7 linked regions of the Homo sapiens genome follow. The protein of the gene in region 1 interacts with the protein of each later gene in a pairwise test. Each region holds a gene or a part of one and is shown on either strand. Other genes may lie near its edges.

Evidence for each region.
Region 2: the proteins of STATH (region 1) and SLC10A6 interact in binary tests that used the Homo sapiens proteins (3 or more experiments, as listed by UniProt).
Region 3: the proteins of STATH (region 1) and SPNS3 interact in binary tests that used the Homo sapiens proteins (3 or more experiments, as listed by UniProt).
Region 4: the proteins of STATH (region 1) and MTIF3 interact in binary tests that used the Homo sapiens proteins (3 or more experiments, as listed by UniProt).
Region 5: the proteins of STATH (region 1) and TMEM80 interact in binary tests that used the Homo sapiens proteins (3 or more experiments, as listed by UniProt).
Region 6: the proteins of STATH (region 1) and TMX2 interact in binary tests that used the Homo sapiens proteins (3 or more experiments, as listed by UniProt).
Region 7: the proteins of STATH (region 1) and ERGIC3 interact in binary tests that used the Homo sapiens proteins (3 or more experiments, as listed by UniProt).

Annotation. Positions count from the first base shown.
Region 1 is NC_000004.12:69,994,639-69,998,765, reverse strand, and holds the start of STATH (statherin isoform a precursor), read right to left. Parts: upstream 2,801-4,127; 5' UTR 2,741-2,800; intron 344-2,740; 5' UTR 329-343; coding exon 278-328; intron 1-277. UniProt on the Homo sapiens protein: Salivary protein that stabilizes saliva supersaturated with calcium salts by inhibiting the precipitation of calcium phosphate salts. It also modulates hydroxyapatite crystal formation on the tooth surface.
Region 2 is NC_000004.12:86,846,585-86,850,546, forward strand, and holds the start of SLC10A6 (sodium-dependent organic anion transporter), read right to left. Parts: upstream 2,801-3,962; 5' UTR 2,532-2,800; coding exon 2,155-2,531; intron 1-2,154. UniProt on the Homo sapiens protein: Transports sulfoconjugated steroid hormones from the extracellular compartment into the cytosol in a sodium-dependent manner without hydrolysis.
Region 3 is NC_000017.11:4,432,626-4,436,739, forward strand, and holds the start of SPNS3 (protein spinster homolog 3), read left to right. Parts: upstream 1-1,314; 5' UTR 1,315-1,342; coding exon 1,343-1,541; intron 1,542-4,114. UniProt on the Homo sapiens protein: Sphingolipid transporter.
Region 4 is NC_000013.11:27,440,565-27,444,064, forward strand, and holds part of MTIF3 (translation initiation factor IF-3, mitochondrial), read right to left. Parts: intron 679-3,500; exon of another isoform or gene 453-678; intron 1-452. UniProt on the Homo sapiens protein: IF-3 binds to the 28S ribosomal subunit and shifts the equilibrium between 55S ribosomes and their 39S and 28S subunits in favor of the free subunits, thus enhancing the availability of 28S subunits on which protein synthesis initiation begins.
Region 5 is NC_000011.10:698,816-701,722, forward strand, and holds part of TMEM80 (transmembrane protein 80), read left to right. Parts: intron 1-53; coding exon 54-73; intron 74-1,326; coding exon 1,327-1,420; intron 1,421-1,799; coding exon 1,800-1,892; intron 1,893-2,907.
Region 6 is NC_000011.10:57,719,093-57,722,592, reverse strand, and holds part of TMX2 (thioredoxin-related transmembrane protein 2 isoform 1 precursor), read right to left. Parts: intron 1-3,500.
Region 7 is NC_000020.11:35,545,078-35,548,577, forward strand, and holds part of ERGIC3 (endoplasmic reticulum-Golgi intermediate compartment protein 3), read left to right. Parts: intron 1-2,334; coding exon 2,335-2,428; intron 2,429-3,431; coding exon 3,432-3,500. UniProt on the Homo sapiens protein: Possible role in transport between endoplasmic reticulum and Golgi. Positively regulates trafficking of the secretory proteins SERPINA1/alpha1-antitrypsin and HP/haptoglobin.

The sequences.
Region 1 (4,127 bases):
AAGCTCTCAGTTCCACATATTTAAGAAGTTCAGTAAAACTTTCTTTTATTTCACACTAAGCTAAATATACTTTAGTGTCTGTAGATGAATAATGACTATTTATTCTAAATCCTTATATAGCTTATGTAGGTTAGTACAAAAAAAAGTTCATATGGAAACATTTAAACATATAAAGCTGTATTCAAGTAAACACCAATATATGCCAGAACACAAGGAATAGAGAGACTCTTGGGATAGGTACTGAGAACATATTCTTCAAATGTCCTGATATACTTACAATCATGGAAACCATGAGAGCCAAGATGAAGGCAAAGACAAGGAACTTCATAGTTGGCTGGGTTCTCTGAAAACATATGTGGAAATTCAGTATCACATTTTTTCTTGCATTCGCCCATCAAAAGTTTATTGATTATACTACGCTCCAAAGCACTGGGAGACACACTCCAGATAGAAAGACAATTAAAACCCATTGCCTGACATCATGAAACTTGGAGACTTGTTGGAGACACTGATAAGTAAAAGTGAGTGTATTGATATGGAAATGCTAAGGCATTAGAGTAACACACAAATCAACACCTTACACAGACCAAGAGAATAGGGGTATGAAGGTAAAGAAGAAAGTAAAGCTTGAGTTGGATTATGCAGGATGAGTAAAGAGGTGTTGGGTGACTGCAAGAAAATGAAAAAGAGGGAGGATACCATATTGAAAGTGCAAACAGTTCAAAATGTAGGGAAGATAAAACTGGAGCAGTTTATCAGAAGATAAAACTGGAACAGTTCAAAATGTAGGGAAGATAGAACTGGATATTATGGGGCGCCTTAAATAATGACATTAGGGATGATATTTAAGGTACAGTGTAAAGAGATGTTTGGATGTTAGAATGACCAGCAATGGGCAATCGCTTTATAATGTTACTGAAAATGAGCCAGATTTCTGTCTTGAGAGTTGCAAAAATGGGGTCACCTTCAGATTAGAACATTAATGATACTGGGTAGAGAACAATCAAACTGATAAGAAGTCACAGAGAAAATATTCGTACCTCCTCTGAGAAGTTGAATTGGTGAAGATGACTTAATATTTTAAATAATCTCATTCAACAAAATTAACCTTATCTGGGACTGTGATATGTTATCATAAACAGTATAAGCCAGTTAACCCAGTTCCTTTGTTATTAAACAAAAAACGTTAGATTATTTATTTGTAAATTATAAACATCTAAATAAAGACATTTTCAGTGAAACACATAATTGCCACAAGAGTTACAAATAAATGACATTTTTACCTGTTTATTGAAAACTATAGAGTAATTCATATAAAGGTAATGGTCTTCATTATTTTAATCTCTTTTACCAATAACTTGTGATAAAACATTACAAGAATATTTTTTACCTAATTATAAAAAAAATTACTGTTATTAATAACCCCAAATCTCCAAAACATAAAGCAGAACTCATGATTTATGGCATTTGCTTTGTTACTTATTCACTGATTTGCCTCAGTTATTCAAACTGAAATTTCTGGCCGGGTGTGGTGGCTCATGCCTGTAATCACAGCACTTTGGAAGGCCAAGGTGGGCAGATCACCTGTGGTCAGGAGTTCAAGACCAGCCTGACCAACATGGAGAAACCCCGTCTCTACTAAAAATAATAATAATAAAAATTTAGCTGGGCATGGTGGTGAGTGCCTATAATCCCAGCTACTTAGGAAGCTGAGGCAGGAGAATCACTTGAGCCCGGGAGGTGGAGGTTGCGGTGAGCCGAGATTGCACCATTGCACTCCAGCCTGGGCAACAAGAGCGAAACTCTGTCTCAAATTAAAAAAAAAAAAAAAAAAAAAAGGAAATTTCTGGTATTAGAGTAAGTGTAAAAATAATATGTACTTTGGGGTTTTTCTATCACCTGATAGATAAACCTACCCATCAGTCATTTTATGATGCAAAAAGCATAAAAACTTTAGTGTATTTTATACCTGTAAATTTTATTGAAAGTATGGAATCAAAAAATGCTCATAGAAGAGTAGTTTTGTTTTACTAACCTTGATAAACTGAAAGATGGATATATAGACATAGATATATAAATATATATGTCATGGTTTTAAAAAAATATTTCCCCAATGAAAAATAATAAAAATATGAAATAGTAAAATCTTTGTTTTCTGCCATATCACAACTGAATGAAAACAACTTAAGTAATATAAAACAGTAAGGCAGTAAAGCATGACTGTTATACAACATTTTTTATTATGCAGAATGACATAACTGTTTAAAATGATGGAAAGGTCAATGAAAAGGTAGTGAGAAATGTTTACTTATGGGAAAAAAGTAAATTTTTAAAAGTTAAACTTGTGAAACAATATATACATTTGCAAAAAAGAGAACGTATGCTATTTTCTTAAAATATGAACTTCGAATAAAGGTAAAAGTAGTAAGTAGCAGAGTAGATGCCAGTACGTAGACAAGGAAATAAAAAGCTTTTCAGAAGTTCCATCAGGAGAGAAGTTGGAATATGTCTCCATATTCCACATTATTTACTTTGCATGATGATTGCTGATTTCAATGTATAGTTATTCAGATTCTCAACTTACCTTCAGATCCTAAGAAGGTCATCATTTCTCTCAATTGTTTCTTTATGAGAAATTATCATTACATAAATACACATTTTTATAATTAGTTTTCAAAAGATTTTAGGAAGCAACACTCTAGATTAAGACAACATATTCGATTATACATGAACATATTACCTTTTACTCAAGATGAGACTACAGAAGTAGTGAAGTTGAAGTGAAGCTTCAAGAGATGATGTGCTACCCTAGAGGGCCAATGTATTTAAACACTCTGAAGTCCCCCATTTGTTTTTGTTAAATAATGGCAATTATGAGATCACATTATGGAAACTAAAAGTAATGCCCAAAATCTGTCTCTACAAATGATAAAAATAACCGTAACAAAGTGATTTTGCAATAGATGATTGTGAAGACAAAGTAACCAGGAAACAACTGTACCCACTGCATGTTAATCCCACTGTTAGTCTAGCGCTGAGTGAGTCAGATGACAGAAAAGCATGCTGGAGGAAACCAGGCATAGAAATAATTGCAGTGATAAAGATGTTTCCACAAGTATGTGTCCAAGGTGGAACAACTCTATGACACAAATAATACTTACCATGTTATCAAGATTTTACATGTTCTCTGATAACTCGTGGTAACTGGCATAATAAAATTACAGTCTTCATATACTTCAAGAGTTTTTCTTCAAATCATTATTTATCTCATACTTTTACCATCTTCTATTGACTTTAGAATATTTTAAGTTACAAAGTGAACGTAAACATTTGCCAAATTCAGTAATCTTTTGGGTACTATATGATAAAAAATTATTATATTTATGGTGAAATGACTCTAAGTGCTCACTGATACATATCTCACATATGACTGAATATATGTATTTGGAAATTCAATTTAATTTCCTGGAGTTTTTAAGGCTACATATTTTTCCATAGCAGCCATGTGTTGACATGATTACACTAGAGTGAAGGAAAAAATGTTTTCATTACATTCCTAGGAAAATTTGTGTAAAAATTACCCTACTCACTGCTGGTTGGATAACTCAATGTACTAAGAAACGAATATCAAAAACTTATATATAAAGTTGAGGTAAGTTATACAGCCTAGTGCATTGTTCCTCAGAGTGTGCCATATGGGAACATCACAGACAGCATCAGCTGGAGCCTGTGGAAATGTAAATTCTTAGTCCACCTTCGCAAACTTGCTGAGTCAGAATCTTGGGGTTGTCCTAAGGCGTTTGCATTTTAACATTATCTCCAGGTGATTCTTTGGGTACTGTGAAGTTTGAAACAAGGCTGGTCTCAGTGGCTCATGTCTGTAATCCCAGCACTTTGGGAGGCCGAGGCAGGAGGATTGCTTGAGCATAGAAGTTCAAGAATAGCCTAGGCAACATAGTGAGACCCGTATCTCCACAAAAACATAAAAAAAAAAACAACCACATATTTGTCTCTTGAATGCATTAGTTATCCTTAGGCTTTAACCAGTAAAGATAATTTGTGGTTTAATTTTGTATCAGATTTTTTAAGGAAGTATTTATTAGGTAAATTTTTATGCTGTATTGGAA
Region 2 (3,962 bases), about 17 Mb from region 1:
TGGTGGGTACGGGTACCTGTATTCCCAGCTACTCAGGAGGCTGAGGCAGGAGAATCACTTGAACCCAGGAGGTGGAGGTTGCAGCGAGCCGAGATCGCACCATTGCACTCCAGCCTGGGCGACAAGAGTGAAACTCCACCCCAAACTATTATCTATATATGTGTGTGTGTGTTTGAGTGTGTGTACATATATATACATATATATACAGTCTTGTGAGAAATAGGTAAATTTAACCCCATTTTGCCAATGATGAGATAAGGCTTAGATAGGTTAAATAATTTGAACAAAGTTAAAGGTGAATTAAAGATAAGAGTTGGCAAAAGAAAGTAAAAGTAGCTTTATCTTTCATAGGTTTCCTGTTCATTGGTGTTTTTATGACAACATTGACTAATAAGAGATTAAGGTAATAAATGTTCTCTTTCCCAGAACACAAGTGTTTGAGAACACTGAAGATTTATGCTGCTATTCAAAACAGAAGATCTAGTTGTGTTGCTAAATGCCATGGGGGAAATGTGCCTAAACTGCAGACTGATGTAAAACAGATGAGAATTCAAATCTGAGTTCTGCCATACTGGTTTGTAGCATTTGGCAAGCTACTTAACCAATCTGAATCACAATTTTCTCAGCTGTAAAATTCAGAACAATAAAAGGCCATTTACAAGGTTATTATGAGCCCCAAGAAGAAAATAAGCATGAAAGCATCTATCCCATGCCTATGGGGCACTTAATAAATATTAGTTTCCTTTTTCTTTCCAAAAACTTTTAGGTCCTGGAATTTATCTCTGATTTATGAACTTCATGCAAAGAATATCTATCATTTCCCAGTTAAATAATCAACTTTACTGAATTTGAATTAGCAATGTATATTAATGGCTTTTACCATTAAGGTAAAACACAAAAGCAGTGTATATTAGTGGCTTTGTATATGAGTGGCTTTTACCATTAAGGTAAAACACAAAATTCATCAAGTTATTTTTTTTTCAAATCTCTCATAAGTGGGTAAACAAAAACACTGCCTTGGGAAAGTTAGTTCCTATTCTGCATGGTATGAGCCCATTAAAATTTATAGGTGAAATATGTTCCATACGCTAAACATTCAGCACAAGCGGAAAACTGGAAACACATACCTGCAGCTGACTCTCACTGATGTCAACTCCCAGCTCAGTCATTACCTCTGATTCATTCATTCATGGTAAAGTGAATCTCAACTAAATGACATACACATGAAACAAATACTTAAATTTATAAGCAGTTCTTCCCCAGGGCAGGAAGTGAAACGGCATGTTCACAAGTAAGCAAAGAGTCTCGAGAGACCATTGTTTTTAGCTCTTTTTCCAGTGCTATCCCTCTACTCTTTCCTCAAATGCTCTTTTTTTCCCCCATCAAAACATGTAATCCAGAAAAGCATGTGACTAATTCATCCTCATTAAAGTGTAAATAAGGGACAAGGCTTAATGTCTCCCAGAGGTATTTATCTACACCATAATTGGGAATAAGGTCACTGGCTTAAAGGGAAGGAATGCGAATCTAGTGATGATGTTAACGATCTGCAAAGCAACAAGAAAGAACAATTTTAGTCCTGAGAGCCTTCGCATTGCTCCTGAAGTCAAATCGACAAGCCATCTCAGCACTTAAAGCTGGATATGGCCACCAGACACCCCTAAAGCTCCTTTATCCAGTCCTCTAAAGTGCTTCTTTCCTAAAGTAGGTGCTCAGGCATCACTGACTGGAGCTACGGGAGTCTCATTCTGACTATGCCACTGACACAACCACGACGGCTGCTACCAAACCACAATCGTTAGCTTCTTGGGATTCTTGGTTTAAGTCCTAGGAGTTGCTAAAGAGGCCAGTGTAGGTAAGAATGAGCTCAAGCTTAGGAAGGGCCACTGGGTGAGGTGCAGACCTGCCTCCACTGCTCAGAACGCATCCCACTGCTCAGAACAGTAGCCAATAAAGAAAATGATCATCAGCAAAGTAACTTTTGAGCACTGAAAGGAAAGCCCACCCATGGCTGAACAAGTCTCTGTGATATTTGTAACATTTCCCACTAGAATCTCTACCAAAAGATTAGAAGAGTGTTTAACACAAGAGTTTCAGTTATTCCCCCTAGGCAGGATAAGAGACAGACTGCTGAGCTTCCCTGGGGTTACTTACCTGAGATCCATATCTCCATCAACCCAGAAGGTGAAAATGTTAGAGATGGTGCCCCCCGGGCAGCAGCCCATGATGAGAACAGCAATAGCTTGGACTGGCTTCAGAGAAAAGCTAATGGCCAGGAGATAAGCTGTAAAAGGCATGAGCCCAAACTGGCAGAGCAGTCCCACAGCAATGCCCCAGGGTCTCCTGATGTGCGACCACAGCTTCCGGATCTCCACGGAACATCCCAAAGAGAACATGAGCAGCCCCATCATCACAGTGGACACCACTGTGAAAACGAGCTCCAGGTTTCCATGCACCTCCAGTCCCACTGGCAGCTCCTCCTCTGAACTGTTGGCAGGGCAGGCTGAGCTGCTGGAACAATTGGCTCTCATCTCCTCATCTCCTTAAGGCAGCATTACAAATGAACATCGGCAACAATGGCTGGGCAGGTCTATCCTGCCACATTTTGTAATAGTGCAACGAAGTCACACATGGAGAATCATTCCAATAACTGTTGGCCAGCAAGGTGATTCATCCTAATCTGATCAATTTTTTCACAAGTGGCATTATAAAAGTAATTATCACAGGCATGAAACATATAATAAACTGTGGTAAGTAAGGCTTTCCACTTCTGTTCTTACTCACCACTGAATATGTATGTGAGATGAGACAAACAAACTTGTTGTCAAGTGGAGTGACCGGGCTATGTCGTCAGCATCACATTGTGTCCCTGGAAAGTAGGGTGGATGCCAAGAAATAATTTCTCCAAATTCAGTTGGGATTTCAAAGAGCCAGGATGCACAGACAGAAAAGCTAACTCCGGAAAAAACAACAAAGCCAAAGCCACACCTTGTAGCATTAGCAAAGCGTGTCTGCTGGAAATAGAGCAAAAAGAAAAAAAACGCCGGTGGAGGAAATGTCAGGAGGGACTAAGAATAATTTCAAGGAGCTTCAGAATTTGTCTCAGTTTTTCTTCTAGTTCTATTAGAATTTGTGTCTAAAGTCAATAATTAAACACCTGTGAGAATAATATGGTATTAGGCACCTAATTATGTCTCATGAAACATGTGAAAACTAATTCCTTCACCCAAAATAATTCAAGGGAGCTCTCACTTGCTTTTGGAGATAAGAGTCTACTTTGAGATACATACCCCTGGCCTCCTAGGGACATCTGGGAATCCTGCAAGGGGATGTGGTAAAGAGCTTGGTCTGAAATGGAGATGGGGTCTGAGGACAGCCTCTGACCACAGTGCCCAGGGCCCCTCTGTGCATTCTAAGCAGGCACTGCTGGCAAAACCCAAGGACTGTATGGTTCTGTGAAACTAAACCTCTGAAAAAGCAGGTGCCACACCCCTTCTCACAGCAGAAAGTTTATTTGTGGGGCACAGGCTAGTAACAAGGCACACTTCATAAACGCCTCTACCTGTCTCAAGAGGGATACTAGCTATGCATTGTTTATTCATGGATGAGCAAATTCTTCTCCATGACAGAATGCTCAGGACATGCTGACTGTATAAAAATACAAGTTAGATTCAAATGTGAAGTAAATTCTAACTATTTGAAGAAAGAATAAACTGCCTTTGGCAAACAAACCCTGAAGGCAGCTCTGGCCATCCAGCCTCCCTGGAGGTTGCGTATAAGGGGTCAGTCAGCACAGGGCGTATTTACGCAGAGCCCTGCAGAGAATGGACACTGAGGAACGGGAAAGGTCTCTGGAAGGCAAGGTGTTCCCAGCTTGAATGATGCAGAGGTGTGGTCAGGCTGAGGAGGAAGGGAGGAGGGAGACAGCTAACATTTTCTGAGCACTTCTCAGGGGTGACAGA
Region 3 (4,114 bases), on another chromosome or scaffold:
GGTGATCCACCTGCCTCGGCCTCCCAAAGTGCTGGGATAACAAGCGTGAGCCACCACGCCTAGCTCCCTCAGTCTTTCTTAGTCTTTCATGACTCTGACATTTTTCAATATACAGTCCCTTTAAAGAAATAGTGTTTCTCAATTTGGGCTTGTCTGATGTTTTTTCATTTTAAAAATTAAAAAAAAAATTTTTTTTTTTGAGTTGGGGTCTTGCTTTGTCACCCAGCCTGGAGTGCAGTGGCACGAACATGGCTCACTGCAGCCTCGACTTCCCAGGCTAAGGCGATCCTTCCTACCTCAGCCTCCCAAGTAGCTGGGACTGTGGACGCACACCACTACACCCGGCTATTTTTTTTTAAAATTTTTTATTTTTTTGGTATTTTTGTAGCAATGGGGTTTCACCATGTTGCCCAGGCTGGTCACAAACTTCTGGGCTTGGATGATCCTCCTGTCTTGGCCTCCCAGTGTTAGGATTACAGGTGCGAGCCACCGCGTCTGGCTGATGTCTTCTCATGATGAGATTCCGGTTGTGCCTTCCTGGCTGGAATGCCACATAGATGATGCTGTGACCTGCGAAGACCTTCACATCTGGAGGCACACGACACCCTCCTGCCTCTCACAGGTGATTTATTTTAACCCCTTGGTCAAGATGTCTGATTCCTCTACTGTATAGTTACTCTTTTTCCTTTTGTTACTAATAAGCAATCTATCAAGAGATGCTTCGTGACCGTGCTGACACCCTCCCCCCTCACTGAAGTCTTCCCCCCAGATTTAGCCCCCACTGATGAGTTTTGCACACAGGCTGTCTTCTTGTAGGCAGCCCCCTCTGCTACCTTTGTTTTTCCGGGAAGGACCTTAGATCCTGGGTAGGTGCTCATCCTGCCTGGCAGTCGAGTGCAATGCTGCTGTCCTGGCCAATGCCCAGCCTTCCTCATTTGCCCCGGCTTCAAGGCATTGGTTCACAGTCCCGTACGGGCAGCTAGACCATCTCACAGCAAGCAGCACTCTGGGAGGCTCATCTCATTTCCTGCCCTGGAAGCTTCCCTTCCTCACTGCAGCCACTGAAGCTGCAGGCTAGATCAAGGGGACCACAGAGTTGTCCAGTCCCCAGGGTGGGGGTGCCAGGAGCCCTTGTCCTCCGTAGCAGGTCTCAGAGGCTGACGATGGGGAAATCGCACTGGTGAAGCTGCCGTGGGGTCAGGAGGAACCTGCGATAAGACGCCCAACAGTTAGGGCAGGTGCTTTGAGGTTTGGAGCCTGGGACCCCACAGGAAGTGACTTCGTGCTGAGCTAATGTTGCTTCATCCTGGCGCCAGTCTCAGGCCAAGAGCTGCAGGCTGGCATGGCTGGGGGGATGTCAGCGGAGTGCCCTGAGCCTGGGCCAGGAGGTCTGCAGGGCCAGTCCCCAGGGCCAGGCAGGCAGTGTCCCCCTCCCATCACGCCCACCTCCTGGAGCCTGCCCCCGTGGAGGGCCTACGTGGCTGCCGCCGTCCTCTGCTACATCAACCTCCTGAATTACATGAACTGGTTCATCATTGCAGGTGAGGAGGGGATGGCTACCCTGGGCAGTACCTGCTGCTGTGCCCACCAGCCAGGGGCTGCAGATCCATGGTGGCCTTCCAGCCATCACCCATCTTTCTGCTCCTGGGCCCATCTCTGGTGTTCTCACCTCTAGAGGTGGTTTTCAGCTGTGCTCGAATCGGGGAGGACCAACTGATGTTCCCAATCCAGCCTCAACTAAGAAGGGACACAGGCTGGGCATGGTGGCTCCCGCTTGTAATTCCAGCACTTTGGGAGGCTGAGGCAGGAAGATTGCTTGAGCCCAGGAGTTTGAGACCAACCTGGACAACATAGTGAGACTCTGTCTCTATTTATTTATTTTTTTTTTTGAGACAGAGTCTCGCTCTGTCGCCCAGGCTGGAGTGTAGTGGCGCAATCTCAGCTCACTGCAACCTCTGTCTCCCAGGTTCAAGTGATTCTCCTGCCTCAGCCTCCCGAGTAGCTGGGATTACAGGCGTGCACCACCACATCCGGCTAATTTTTGTATTTTGAGTAGAGGAGGAGTAGGGACGGGGTTTTACCATGCTAGTCAGGCTGGTCTCGAACTCCTGACCTCAGGTGATCCACCCGCCTCGGCCTCCCAAAGTGCTGGGATTACAGGCATGAGCCACCGTGCCCGGCCTTTTTTTTTTTTCTTGAGACAGAGTCTCAATCTGTTGCCCAGGCTGGAGTGCAGTGGCGCGATCTCGGCTCACTGCAACTTCTGCCTCCCAGGTTCAAGCGATTCCTATCTCAGCCTCCCGAGTAGCTGGGACTACAGGCGCATACCACCATGCCAGGCTAGTTTTTGTATTTTTAGTAGAGACGGGGTTTTGCCGTGTATGCCAGGCTGTCTCGAACTCCAGACCTCAGGTGATCCGCCTGCCTCGGCCTCCCAAAGTGTTGGGATTATAGGCATGAGCCCCTGCGCCCAGCCGAAACTCTGTCTCTATTTAAAAAATTAAAAATATTTTAGGGCTGGGTGCGGTGGCTCAGGCCTGTAATCCCAGCACTGTGGGAGGCCAAGGTGGGCGGATCACTTGAAGTGAGGACTTTGTGACCAGCCTGGGCAACATGGTGAAACCCCGTCTCTACTAAAACTACAAAAATTAGCCGAGCATGGTAGCGGGCACCTGTAATCTCAGCTACTGGGGAGGCTGAGGCAGAGAATTGCTTGAACCTGGGAGGTGGATGTTGCAGTGAGCCGAGATCCCACCATTGAGCCAAGATCCCACCATTGCACTCCAGTCTGGGCGACAGAGCAAGGCTCTGTCTCAAAAAAAAAAAAATAAAAAATAAAAAATAAATAAATAAATAAATATTTTTTAAAAATTAAGGGAGGGCACAGTGGGGGTGGGGCCAGAGACATAATGAGGGGTGGGTGGGTGAGGACAGCAGGCAGGACTTCCAGGCAGAGGCCCCCAGGTTCTAGGTGGAGGACAGGGTAGCCTGGGCCAGACAAGAATAGCTCCTGCTGGCTGTGTTTCTAGGACAACAGGCTGCTCGCAAACCTCACACGTCCTGCCTTCCTTCTTGCAGGCTTCAGGGCTCAACCTGCTCTGTCTTCTGTCACTCATTCACTAACTCACTCACTCATTCATTCATTCAAGACTGATCAGGGGCCAGGCGTGGTGGCTCACGCCTGTAATCCCAGCTACTCGGGAGGCTGAGGCAGGACAGTCGCTTGAACCCGGGAGGCGGAGGTTGCGGTGAGCTGAGATCGTGCCACTGCACTCCAGCCTGGGCGACAGAGCGAGACTCCGTCTCAAACAAAGACAACAACAATAACAACAGCTGATTGAGGCTCCACTTGCTCTTCTCTTCTTGTCATTCATTCATTCAAGACCGGCTGAGCACTAACTGTGGGCAGGACCCCCTGCTGGCTGCTGTGGACCCAGGGAGGAAATCGGACTTGGAGTTCCTGAACTCAGGAATGACCATCTCATGGGGCAGAGATAGAGGCTGGTTGATGGCAGTCCTGCGAGGCGGAGAGGTGCGGCCAGACAAGGGGGAGGCACAGGCCGGGCTGGGAGCTCAGGAGGGTGCCTGCAGCTGCCAGGCATCTCTGAGACCTGGGCATCGATCTGTCAGTTACCAGCTCAGCATGCCAGAGAGTGGCTATGGAATCATGAAACTCTAGGGGCTGCAGAGCCATCCCCAGACCTGGTCATCGTCTTTGAGGAGCTCAGAGGTCAGGAGCTTCTCCTCACATGAGGTCAGGAGTTCGAGACCAGCCTGGGTAACATAGAAAAACCTTGTCTCTACAAAAAATTTAAAAAATTAGCCAGGGACAGTGATGTCTTCAGCCTCTCGGGAGGCTGAAGCAGGAGGATTGCTTGAGGCTGAAGCAGGAGGATTGCTTGAGGCTGAAGCGGGAGGATTGCTTGAGGCTGCGGTGAGCCCTCTAGCCTGAGTGACAGAGCAAGATCTTATCTAAACCCCTAAAGACAAAAAGCCAAAACAAAGCAAAACAAAACACATGAAACAAAAAACCCCAAAGGGGTGTATGGGGTGAGAACAGAGCTTCTTGGGTGCCAGACTGGGAGCTTGGACTTTCTGCCTTGGGCAATGGGGA
Region 4 (3,500 bases), on another chromosome or scaffold:
GGGAAATGCTGTTCTCTAGACTTTCAGATCCACACACAGGAAGTCTACACTGATAAAGCGGACTAGCAGGTGACTCTGGCCAGACTAACTCATGGTGATACTGTCCCCAAGACAAGTGGCTATTAGAATAAACCAGATTTACATAGCATTTTGGTTTCACTTTTTTTTTTTTTCTGTACACATGATCTCATTTGACTACTTAGTTGACCCCTGAACAACTTGGGAGTTAGGGAAACAGACCCCCTGTGCAGTTGAAAATCTGTGTATAACTTTGACTCCTCAAAAACTTACTAATAGCTTACTGTTGACTGAAAGCCTTATGAATAACATAAGCAGTTGATTAACACATATTTTGTATGCCATATGTATTATATACTGTATTCTTACAATACAGCAAGCTAGAGAAAAGAAATGTCATTAAGAAAATCATAAAGAAGAGAAAATATATTTACTATTAAGTGGAAGTGGATCACCATAAAGGTCTTCATCCTCATTGTCTTCACATCAAGTAGGCTGAGGAGGAGGAGCAAGAGGAGGGGTTGGTCTTCTCTCAGGGGTGGCAAAGGTGGAGGAAAATCCACATATATGTGGACCCCATGCAGTTCAAACCTGTGTTGTTCTAGGATCAACTGTATTTCTCATGCATCTTGTAGTGCCAACTCCAAAAGCGAGTGTCATCTTAGGGCTTTATTTATGAGGATGCAGTACATAAAATGCTTGGTGATTCATAAACACCAATTGATAAACTTCTAATATAATTAACTGTTAACAATTTTTCAATACATCTGATGGTATATAGCAGATAGGAACACACTATGGGAAAGGGACCTCTCCAGGAAGGAAGCCAGCCCACTGCAAGAATAACTGAGCCTGTCAGAAAACACTGTGACATAAATCAAAGTGCTAACCTCATAAACTATAAAGATCATTCTCAAGGTAAGGCAGGTGTTAATTACTACCAAATGTTAACAGAGGCATGTATGGTGACAGTGGTTTTACTTCATGGTTATGAGACTGAATTTGAAGCACTTACAAATGGCACATTGATTTTTTAATTGCTTTTCTGTCCTTCCATTCATGTATTTGGTAAATCTTAGAAGTACAGGCTGAAAGAGTGCTGAGAGGACCCATTCATCTCATCTAGGGCATGCTAGGAATCATTAGAGAATCACAAACTTGGAGAGGTGTGACTTGTCAAAGATGAAAGAGGAAAACAGAAGGTGTCTTCAGGGTGCTTCTCAAAGAATGGTCCCAGAATCTCCTGGGGTGTTTAAAACTGGAAGTTCCCTCTGGTCCCTGGCTTTGAGCCCACTGGGCTGTACAACCCACTTATCTCTCACCTGTCATGTTCAAGAGTGATATGCAAAAAAATATGGTAAATTCAACAGAAAGTGATGGACATGCATATTCTCAACACCCTCCTTACCTAGTTTGGTAACACCCAACACTCTAATTTATAGCTCTGGTGCCAGTCTCTTCTCTTGAGTTCCACACCTGTAGGGTTAACCGCCTACCCAACCTCTCCACTTAGATATGTAATAGTCATTGAGGATTAACGTGTTCAAAGTTCAATGCTTTGCCTTCCATGCAAAACTTGCTCCTCCCTCAGTCTTCCCTGTCTCATGTAATTGCAACACATTCTTCTGGTTGCTCAGGCCAAAAATACCAACGTTATCCTTGACTCTTTATTTTCTCTCAGCAACCCATCCGCAAAACCTACCGTTCAACCAGTATAACCACTTCTCACCTTCTCTACTGCTATCATCCCACTCCCAAACCGCCGCGCCGCTCAACTGCATCACAGTAAAACCGCATCACAGTAACAGCTTCCCGACTGCTCTTCCTGCCTCTGCCCTCACAGCCTGGAGTTTATTACTGCTAGGGCACACAGAGCAATCCTTAAAAATGCGTAAGTCAGATCACGTTCCTCCTCTGCCCACACCCTCCCCTGGCTAGTATCTCACTCCAAGTAAAAGCTAAGCTCTCTACCATGCCCACTGGCCTGTGCCGACCGTACTTCTTCTGGCTCACTCTGTTCCAGCCTCCTTGCTGTTCCTTGTGAACAGTGAACACACCCCTCCTCTGGGTCCTGGCACCCAGAAGTTCTCTCTCCCTGCAACACTCTTCCCTCAGATAGCCTCATGGTTCATTTACCTCGTCTCTGCTCAAACGCTACCTACTCAGCGAGCCCTTCCCTGACCCTTCCATAAAAGAGCACACCCCAACACTCTCAAACCCATTACCTTGCCTTTTAAAAACTTTACTGCATTCATCACTGCTGGACACATTCTATATTTATTTGCATATATGTTCATAATCTTTCCTCACTGGAATGAAAGCTTCATGAGAACATGGACTTTGTCCATTTTGTTCACTGCTGTGTTCCCCGGCACTACAGCTCAGAGCCTGGCTCAGCATGCACATGTCGAATGAATGCACGGGCCGAAGGAAACAGCCAAGGAGCTATGGCAGGGCTGCTGGCATTTAACCTCTACACCTTCGGATGTGTCACGAATGCCTACAAACTACACCCTTCACATTTCTAGCTGGCATTTCAGATGCCCGTCAGTAATGGTGAGTATCTGTGGCCAGATGCTCCATCCACAGTGTATGACATGCATTGATTTATGGTTATTACCCAGCTGGTGGCTCCAGCTGTAGATGCTGTAAAGGCTCTAAGGTGGGAGCAAAGTGATTTTAAATCACTGACATACTGTTTAATAAAAAGTCAGATCTTTTGTGAATGGAGGAAGCCCCCAAACCAAAAAAGAAGAAAAATCTGAAAAGATCACAGAAGATTTTTTTTTCACTTATCAGAAAACTAGCAGCAGCATCCAGTCCCAAATGTCACTAGGTATTCTGCTAGGGGACTCTTAAGTTCCTGCTCACAAGCCTGCTCTATAAACTTTATGTCTAAAATCAGTGTTGTTTCTTTCCAAAGTCTGTATTAGCGACAATGATGTAGAAGTTATCACATGTAAAATCATGTTACTAAATAGATAGATATAAATTCTAATATTCTTGATATATACAGTAGACAAAACAGTTCACTGCAATTAAGCTTTAATACTAACTCAGTACTGGCTATCTTTTTCCCTTAGTAGTTATGAATAAGAGCTAAAGTGCCTTGTTTAATAAATTATCAACATATTAAAATATAAAAAATTTCAAAATTTGATTTTTTTCAAACAAGCAAACAAAATAACTAGATATAGGAAAAGATGAAAAAAATTTATAAAAATGTTGAAGACAAAAGCAATTCATTCCCCTATTTTTCCTAATTGCCAGTATTTCTCAAGTTTTTTTATAAGTGTTATTTTTATACTTGAAAATAAATTTTATTTACAAAATAAAGACTATTTCAGAAAAATGACGTAGGTTTTTTAAAAAAGCTTTAAAAACACTTTCCAAGAAGGAAACAAAGGAAAGGGAAAGAATAGAAAAACACTGGAAGTAGGGCCGGGTGCAGTGGCTCACGCCTGTAACCCCAGCACTTTGGG
Region 5 (2,907 bases), on another chromosome or scaffold:
GGAAAGCATCCTGGTGGCTGTCAGGCCTTGCTCACGGCCCCTTTCTCTTTCAGGGAGAGGATCCTCCACAGTGGTATCCTGCTGCGTGCCCCTCCAGGACAGCACCCAGAGGCCCGAATTGCTGCTGCACAGAGAGCACTCGGCCTCACCCCACGTTTTCCCTAAGTTCTGTCTAGTAATTCCACTTTGGAGAGGGGGGTGTTCCTTGACAGATTTAGAGAGTTGATGTAACTTCCTCGGATCAGTTCTGCTGGCTCCATCCCCTACCTGCTCAGCCCTGCACAAAGTGGCTAAGCACGCCACACTGCCGGCTCCCAAGGCGATGGCCACCTGCCTCTGTCTCGGCCGCTAGTGGCAGGAAGATGGAAATCCCTCACTTTGTCCCTAGATTCATTTTATTTTATTTTTGTTTGTTTATGTTTTTTTAAGGACAGAGCCTTCCTCTCACCCAGGCTGGAGTGTGGCAATCACAGCTCACTGCAGCCTCAGCCTCCTGAAGCTCTGGCATCAGGCGGGAGCCACTGTGCCTGGCCCCATAGACTCATGTTAGCATAAACAAATAGGAAATGTACACAGCTCAGGAAATGGCTACTAGATACTTAAGTCCCCCAAACAGAAATATATTTCCTCTGAAGAAACTGAAAAAAGTGGCCGGGCGCAGTGGCTCATGCCTGTAATCCCAACACTCTGGGAGGCTGAGGTGGACAGATCACTTGACACCAGGAGTTTCAGACCAGCCTGGCCAACATGGTGAAACCCTGTCCCTACTAAAAATACAAAAAATTAGCTGGGCATGGTTTTGCACGCCTGTAATCCCAGCTACTCAGGAGGCTGAGGCAGAAGAATCACTTGAACCCAGGAGGCGGAGGTTGCAGTGAGCCAAGATTGTGCCACTGCACAGTGTCCAGTCTGGGCAACAGAGCAAGACTCTATCTCAAAAAAAAAAAGAAAATGACAAAGTTATTTTTTCTCTCTTAACTCATAACTGGGGCCAAAGGCAGGGTGACATCACTGGGGATGCCAGTGTGTGGAGGCTGTCCCCTGACCAGTCCTGTCCACAGTCAGGAGGGCAGGGGCTGCAGTGCACAGACCGCATTGTTGTGGCATGGAGGGGGGTCCCACAAAGGCCTTGTCAGCTCATGGGACCACATTGGCAGCCAGCATAGTGACAGAAGCCTCAGATAGGCAGTGAGCCATTGCCAAGACTCCATGGTCCCTTGGTGTCTGTGGCCACCAAACAGATGACAGAACCAGCCCCTCTTGTTCAGCCACCTGGGAGGCTGCTCCCAAGCCTGTTGAGCTTGAGGATCCTTAACCACTCACCAGCTCTCTTCAGTTCCCCTTCAAATGCTGTTTTATCTCAGCGGAACGTACTACGCCCTGTATTTCCTCGCCACGCTCCTGATGATCACGTATAAAAGTAAGTCAGGGACGGGCACAGTGGCTCACGCCTGTAATCCCAACATTTTGGGAGGCTGAGGTGGGCGGATCACTTGAGGTCAGGAGTTTGAGACCAGCCAGGCCAACATGGGGAAACCCCATCTCTACTAAAAACACAAAAAGTAGCCGGGCGTGGTGGTGGGCGCCTGTAGTCCCAGCTACTCGGGAGACTGAGGTGGGAGGATTGCTTGAACCCGGGAGGTGGAGGTTCCAGTGAGCCAAGATTGCGCCACTGAACTCCATCCTGGGTGACAGAGCAAGACCCTGTCTCAAAAAAAAAAAAAAGGAAAAGGCAAGCTGAGGTGGCTGCTGCTGCTGTGCCAGGTTACTTATGTTCCGTCCGCGCCTCTGCTCTTCAGGTCAGGTGTTCAGCTATCCTCACCGCTACCTGGTCCTCGATCTTGCTCTGCTGTTTCTGATGGGGATTCTAGAAGCAGTTCGGTTATACCTGGGTGAGTGGACTGTTAACACCGTGAAGAACCTGTCCTAAGAGTTGCTATCTGTTTCCACAGCCTTTCAAGAGTAATTATTTTATAGTGTGGTTCTCAGAGACATTTTTTATCCAAACTGCTTACCCAGTTGCTTTGCAGGCTCACCTTACAGTGTCATTAAGTATTAATCAAGAAGTTTTGTCCCAGAGACAAATAACACTGGGGGCATCGTTGGGAGAGACTCTGTGTTTGGAAGCATGTCTTGTAGAAGCCACTGGGTAATGGCACTGAGATCAGAAAAGCCCAGCCCACCACCACATCTGGAGCTCCGGAATATTCACCAGCACCCCTTTCCTTCCCCTTGCCCTTAGCTGTCTGAGGAGAGAGCCCTGGAGAGTTCTGCCAGGTCCCAAAAGGCAGCAGAGTCTGGAGGGGTGGGAGCCCCCAGCCTCCCCACTCCAGCTCTAGGGATCCCCAAGTCTGCAACCCCTTCCAGTGACCTACTTTTTTTGAGACGAGGTCTCACTCTGTTGCCCAGGCTGGAGTGCAGTGGTGCAGTCACAGCTCACTGCAGCCTTGACCTCCTGGGCTTGAGCGATCCTCCTGCCTCAGCCCTCCCCTCCTCCCAAGTAGCTGGGATTACAGGCACCTGCCACCACGCCCAGCTAATTTTGTTTTGTTTTGTTTTGTTTTTTTTTGGTAGAGACGAGACAAGGTTTCTTTTTTTTTTTTTTTTTTTTTTGAGACAGAGTCTCGCTCTGTCGCCCAGGCTGGAGTGCAGTGGCGTGAACTTGGCTCACTGCAAGCTCCGCCTCCCGGGTTCACGCCAGTCTCCTGTCTCAGCCTCCCGAGTAACTGGGACTACAGGTGCCCGCCACCACGCCCGGCTCATTTTTGTATTTTTAGTAGAGATGGGGTTTCACCATGTTAGCCAGGATGGTTTCCATCTCCTGACCTCCTGATCCGCCCACCTCGGCCTCCCAAAGTGCTGGGATTACAGGCGTGAGCCACCGCGCCCGGCCGGAGACAGGGTTTC
Region 6 (3,500 bases), on another chromosome or scaffold:
CAGTAAAGTATCACTTCTATATGACACATATAAAGATACAGATATAACAGGCATGCAGAATAAAAGCCATGTTCAAAAGATACTTTATTTGCCTGTTTTCAAAAACAATTTTTCTCCCTTACTTTAGATAATTAGTAAAAGTTACAGGACACAACAAAAGGTGAAGGAGAGAGCCATCTTTCAAGGCCTTTTCAAAAGAGAAAGAGGGCCGGGTGCAGTGACTCACACCTGATTTTATTGTCTCAACTCTTTTATCTTTTTCTTCTCCTTTTAAAAAAATTCCTTCACTGAAGCTGGGTGCGGTGGCTCACACCTGTAATCCTAGCACTTTGGGAGGCTGTGGTGGGAGGATCGCTTGAGCTCAGGAGTTCGAGACCAGCCTGGGCAACACAGTGAGACCTCCTCTCCACAAATGATTTTTAAAAATTAGCTGGGCATGTATGTTGGCACGTGCCTGTACTCCCATCTGCTTGACAGGCTCAGGTGGGAGGATGGCTTAAGTGCAGCAGGTTGAGGCTGTAGTGAACTGCGACCATGCCACTGCACTGTAGCGTGGGTAAGAGAACAAGACCCTGTCTCCCCCCTCAATTTTTAAAATTAATTTAAAAAATAAATAAATAAAATTACTTCAGTGAGAAGGAAGAAATCTCAACTCTTATTGCCTGGTTAGTCCTGGGCAAGTCCAATCCAGGGAGGGCCTAGCTGGTGTCTCAAATTAATAGGTCTATGATTAGCAGCCCCCCACGTATTGGTGGGATACTACAGGAAACACACACATAAACACCATCCTTAACTGTCTATGAAAACAAGAGTCTTTCGCTATCTTAGCCTATTTTTGAAAGTAAATATTTTGGGGGAATGTGAGGGTTATATCATCTGGTATTCTGAACCTAGAAAATTACCTCTGAGACTTTCCATGAAGAAGGCTTATTGGCTTAAGTCGCTAAGTAAATTGGCTTTATTTAAAAAACATTTTAGACCAGGCACAGTGGCTTATACCTGTAATCCCAGCACTTTGGGAGGCCGAGGCTGGTGGATCACCTGAGATTGGGAGCTTGAGAACAGCCTGACCAACATGGAAAAACCCCATGTCTACTAAAAATACAAAATTAGCTGGGCATGGTGGCACATGCCTGTAATCCCAGCTACTCAGGAGGCTGAGGTTGTGGTGAGCCGAGACTGAGCCATTGCACTCCAGCCTAGGCAACAAGAGCAAAACTCCATCTCAAAAAAAAAAAAAAAAAAAACTTTATTTATTTATTTAAATAAAACATTGATTGATTGATTGATTGGAGATGGAGTCTCACTCTGTCACCTAGGCTGGGGTGCGGTGGCACTATCTCAGCTCACTGCAACCTCTGCCTCCCAGTTCAAGCAATTCTCCTGCCTCAACCTCCCAGGTAGCTGGGATTGCAGGCACACACCACCACACCCGGCTAATATTTTGTATGTTAGTAGAGACGGGGTTTCACTGTATTGCCCAGGCTGGTCTCGAACTCCTGAGTTCAGGCAATCCACACGCCTTGGCCTCCCAAAGTGCTAGGATTACAGCCACCGTACCTGGCCTGAGGAAAAAAAAAAAAAACAGCTATCTTTCTAGTACCCATAAAAAGATACAGAAAGAACACAGCCTTAGAAACTCCCTTGGCAAGATTTTTAAAAGACAGAAATCAGATTCAAAACACAAGTTAAAATTCTTTGTACACTCAAACTGCTTGTTTTGGATCCCCTGAAGGGCCTGCAAAAAGGCACTATGATCTGTGGTCTAGTGGCTGGCAATAAACTGGTTAGCTGCTGCAGCGTGGGTTCGATTCCTTGTAAGGTAACAGTCCATTGCAGATGCAAGTCTTTTAACTCAGAGGAAAAAAAAGAAACACTTATAAAAATTAGTTTGAGGCCAGGCACGATGGCTCACGCCTGTAATCCCAGCACTGTGGGAGGCCAAAGCGGGCGGATGGCTTGAGGCCAGAAGTTCGAGATCAGCCTAACTAACGTGGTGAAACTGTCTCCACTAAAATACAAAAATTAGCCGTGTGTGATGGCACACGCCTGTGATCCCAGCTACTCAGGAGGTTGAGGTATGAGAATCGCTTAATCTGGAGGCAGAGGTTGCAGTGAGTAGAGATCATGCTAAAGCACTCCAGCCTGGGCGATAGAGCAAGACTCTGTTTCAAAAAAAAGAAAAAGTTTTGTTTTGAATTTCCATTTGTTGACTCCTGACTTTTGGGGGTACTCATTCGTTATTGGTACCATATACACAATAAACACATGTATAGACATATACATACATATATAGACACATGTATCGATACAAAAGCCAAAGACTAGAGAGTTTAATTCAAAAGAGAGAAGAGTTTTAAACCTGACATGAACCCATTAGTGACTTTTGGGGCTCTATAAGGAAAACGAGAGGCCCCAAAAGAGAGGGTCAGTGGCACCTTTTTTTTTTTTTTTTTTTGTATTTTTAGTAGAGATGGGGTTTCACCACGTTGGCCAGGCTGATTTTAAACTTCTGACCTCAGGTAATCCACCTGCTTCAGCTTCCCAAAGTGCTGGGATTATAGGCGTGAGCCACCGCGCCCAACCAGTGGCACCTTTTTTTTGTCTTCCTCAAGGGATCTCAGGGTTGTCAGAAGTCCCATCTAGACCCCTTTAAGGGTTATCAAAGGTGGCAAAAGGAAGAAGTAGAAATACATGGAACAACCAGTTTTGGAGAAGCCAATTTGGAGAGATTTTAAGCTTCCCCAAAAGGCTAATGAAATTTTACATTTTCAAGGCAGGGTGCAGTAGTTCATGCCTATAGTCCCAGCACTTTGGGAGGCTGAGGGAAAATGTACCACTTGAGCCCAGGAGTTCAAGATCAGCCTGTGCAACATGGCGAAACCCCATCTCTACAAAAAATACAAAAATTAGCCGGGCGTGGTGGTGTGCACCTATAATCCCAGCTACTCAGAAGGCTGAGGTGGAATACTTGAGCCCGGGAGGTCAAGGTTGCAGTAAGGTGACATCTCACCATTGCACTCCAGCCTGGGCAACAGAGTGAGACCCTGTCTCAAAAAAAAAAAAAAAAAAAAAAAAGACAAAGAAAAAAGAAATTTTACATTTTTCTCAGCAAAGATCATGCCAACAAGAAAGGAAGTGAACACAAGGACTAAACATAATTTTTTTTTAAAGGGGGTTTCAGTGAACTGAAAAAATTTCCCAGGGCATGAGATCCAAAAGAGAAAAAGCAGAAAGCCTTTAAAAAATAAAAAAATTGGCCAGGCACGGTAGCTCATGCCTGTAATCCCAGCACTTTGGGAGGCCGAGGCAGCTGGATCACGAGTTCAGGAGATCGAGACCATCCTGGCCAACATGGTGAAAACCCGTCTCTACTAAAAATACAAAAAATTAGCCGGGCGTGGTGGCGTGCACCTGTAATCCCAGCTACTCAGGAGGCTGAGGCAGGAGAATCGCTTGAACCCAGGAGATGGAGGTTGCAGTGAGCCAAGATTGCACCA
Region 7 (3,500 bases), on another chromosome or scaffold:
CAGGCATGGGCCACCACGCCCAGCAGGGGATCTGCTTTTAAAGGGCTCACTCATAGGGCTGTTGGCAGGATGCCTCAGTGCCTCACCACATGGGCCTCTCAGTAGGGTTGCTTGTGTGTCCTTGTATCACGGCAACTGGCTTCCCCCACTTGGATCTTGCAAGTGAGCTGAGAGAACAAAGTAGAAACCATAACCTTTGGCCAGGCATGGTGGCTCACGCCTGTAGTCCCAGCACTTTTGGAGGCTGAGGCAGTTGGATCACCTGAAGTCAGGAGTTCAAGACCAGCCTGGCCAACATGGTAAAACCCCATCTCTACTAAAAAATACAAAAAAAAAAAAATTAGCCGGGTGTGGTGGTGGGCACCTGTAATCCTAGCTACTCAGGAGGCTGAGGCAGGAGAATCACTTGAACCAGAGAGGCAGAGGTTGCAGTGAGCCGAGATCACGCCACTGCACTCCAGCTTAGGCAACAAGAGTGAAACTCTGTCTCAACAACAACAACAAAAAAACGTGTAACCTTTTTTATGACCCAGCCTCAGAAGTTGTACACCATCATTTCTGCAATATACTAGTGCTTACACAGGTCAGCCTTACTCATTGTGGGAGAGGACTACATAAGGGTGTGAATACTAGGAAGTGGGGATCATTGAGGACATCTTGGAAACTAGCTTCCACAGAGTAAGGTCAGGATTTGCAGGAAAGAGGAATCTCAGGTTTGGGGTATGTTAAATTTGGGGTTCCTATTTTATACTCTGGTGATATTAAGAGGCAATTAGATGTACCAGTCTAGAATTTAGAGGAGTTATCAGCAGGTACAGGGTAGTTTAAACAACTGGACTAAGAAAACCTGGGGAGTCAATGTAGGTAGAGGATAGGTCTACGGCCTGTACCCTGGGTATCTCCAATATTTAAAAGTCAGGACAGGAAGGAAGATTGGGACGGATTAGCCATTGACGTAGAAGAACCAAGAGGTGTCCCAAAAGCCAAGTGGAGAGAGTTTCAAGAAGAGAGAGTGAGCAGTTGTATCAGAAGCTACTGATAGTCCAGTAAAATGAGGAGTGAGAATTGACCATTGAAATTAGCAACAAAGAGATTCCTGGAGACTTTGAAAGGAACAATTTTGATACTGTTGAGGATGAAAATCGGATCAAAGAGCAAAAAAGGAAGTGGAGACATTACCTATAGGTGACTTGGGAGTTTCACTGTAAGGGAGAGCTGAGAAATGGAGTGGGATCTGAAGGAGAAAGTGGTGAGATGGTGGGTTTGGTGGTGAGAGCAAGTGAAGTTCTGTTGCTTCTCTTTTCTTAGTGGAAATTGAAAGCAAGGACATTAGCTAAGTGAAGAAATAGGAGGGGGTTTTGGGAGCCTAAGGAGAGAGGAGAAGGTCTAAGTCACCTTAGAGAGTGGGAGAGTGAACTGATTAGAGAAATGAAGTGGAATTGCCAGGCAGTCCTAAAGGAGCTTCAGGAAAGAAGTAGGTACAGAGAGTTGAATGGAACCAGGGTGTGGGTTTTGCTGGATTTGTAAATGAAAGACGAGAGGAACAGGGAGTTGTGGTTATGTGCAAGAGAATAATTACAGTGGACCATGGGATTTCAGGAGGGAAGTGAGGACGTGATAGTGTCAGCAGTGTCAAAGAATTGGTGGATTTCGGGTACTAAATAGTGAACTTGGAAAATAAGGGTAAGTAGTTGAAGACTCAGACACTTGAAGTTGAATTTTGGAAGATTTGCAGTTATTGGCAGTGACAGGATCTAGGTATGAGTATGAAAATGGGTAGCTGAGGTGAGATGGCAAAATCAAAAGATTATCATGAGTCGGGAGGTCAGTATTCATTATTGAAATCACCAGTTATGATGGGGTGATTAGAGTGAGGCAAGGAGCCGGTGCAGAGGGAGAGGTGTGAGGAGAAGCACCATGGCAAGAGGTTAGTGGCATACACGTTGGAATTAGCTGAAATCTGTTTCCTCGGTTGCATTGGGCAAAGTCACTTCTCATCAGTGAGCCTCAACATCTTCTCAGTAAAACAGGGATAATTACCGCCACCCTCAAAGAGTCATTGTGGGGATGAAATGAGATGATGGTTGTGAAGTACAGTGATCTGTACACAGCTAATGTTCAGTATTTACTGTTGACTGTTTTCTTACTGTTTCTTTTATTAAAAGAATTGATATGTGTGTAGAAGTGCTTAATGCCTGACCCGTAGCATGTACTATATGAATATTAGTTATTATAACTTTTATTATCCCTAAGCAAAGGGCTTGTGCAGACTGGAGCCACCGATTTCACTGTGTCTGGCCCCAGCTGATGCCTCTGCTTCTCCCCTCCCCTTAGAGCTTGGGAAAGTCGAGGTGACGGTGTTTGACCCTGACTCCCTGGACCCTGATCGCTGTGAGAGCTGCTATGGTGCTGAGGCAGAAGATATCAAGTGAGCTGGCGGGGAGCGGGAGCAGGGTTCCCATCAGGCGCCATCTGTCAGTCAGCCTCAGCCTCAGTCAGACTGTGGCAGGTGGGGAGGTCAGACCAAGAATCTAGAGTGGGCGGGGTATGTGCCTCTGTCATTGATCCTGGTGCAAGCGACTGAGGCTTTGTAACCAGGCCCTATCTGGGAGCTGCAGACCTAGAGATGAAGCTGAAGTGGTCTCTGCTCTTCCACCTAGAGAAATGGTTCAGAGGTGGTCTCTGGAGTCCAGTTACCTGGGTTCTACCCGTTTCCTTGGGCCAAGCCATGTAACCTCTCTATGTGAAGAGGGATGATAATAACATCTTCTCGTAAGAGTCACATATGGATTAGCTGTATACTGTGTGTAAAGCACTGAGGTGGAAGGCCCAGCCCAGATTATTAGACCCTCAGTATCTGATAACTGCTGCTGTTTCCCAGACCCTGACTTCTGCAAGACTGATTCAGCAGGTCTGGAGTGGGGCCTGGGAATGTGTACTTAAATTTTTTTTTATTGTGGGAAAATATGTGACATAAAATTTACCATTTTAACTATTTTTAAGTGTGCAACTCAGTGGCATTAGGTATCTTCACAGTGTCATGCAGTCACCACTCTCTGTCCTAAAACTTGTCATCGCCTCAAACAGAATGGGAATATGTATTTTTCACAGTCCTAGTCTGGGCACAATGGCTTACACCTGTAATCCGTAGCACTTTGGGAGGCCGAGGTAGGTGAATCACTTGAGCTCAGGAGTTTGAGACCAGCCTGGGCAACATAGCAAGACCCTATCTCTAAAAAAATTTTAAAAATTAAAAAAAGAAAACAGTCCTTCTGCCACTGAGGAAACACATTTGGAGAATGTTTGGTGGTCAGGGATGAGGCTAGCAGAGCCTTCATTAGCAGGCAGAGCTGCTCGGGCTCTATTTCCCCAGATGCCAGCACTGGACTTATGCCTCTTTAACACTCTCACCGTCACTCCCTGCCCTACAGGTGCTGTAACACCTGTGAAGATGTGCGGGAGGCATATCGCCGTAGAGGCTGGGCCTTCAAGAACCCAGA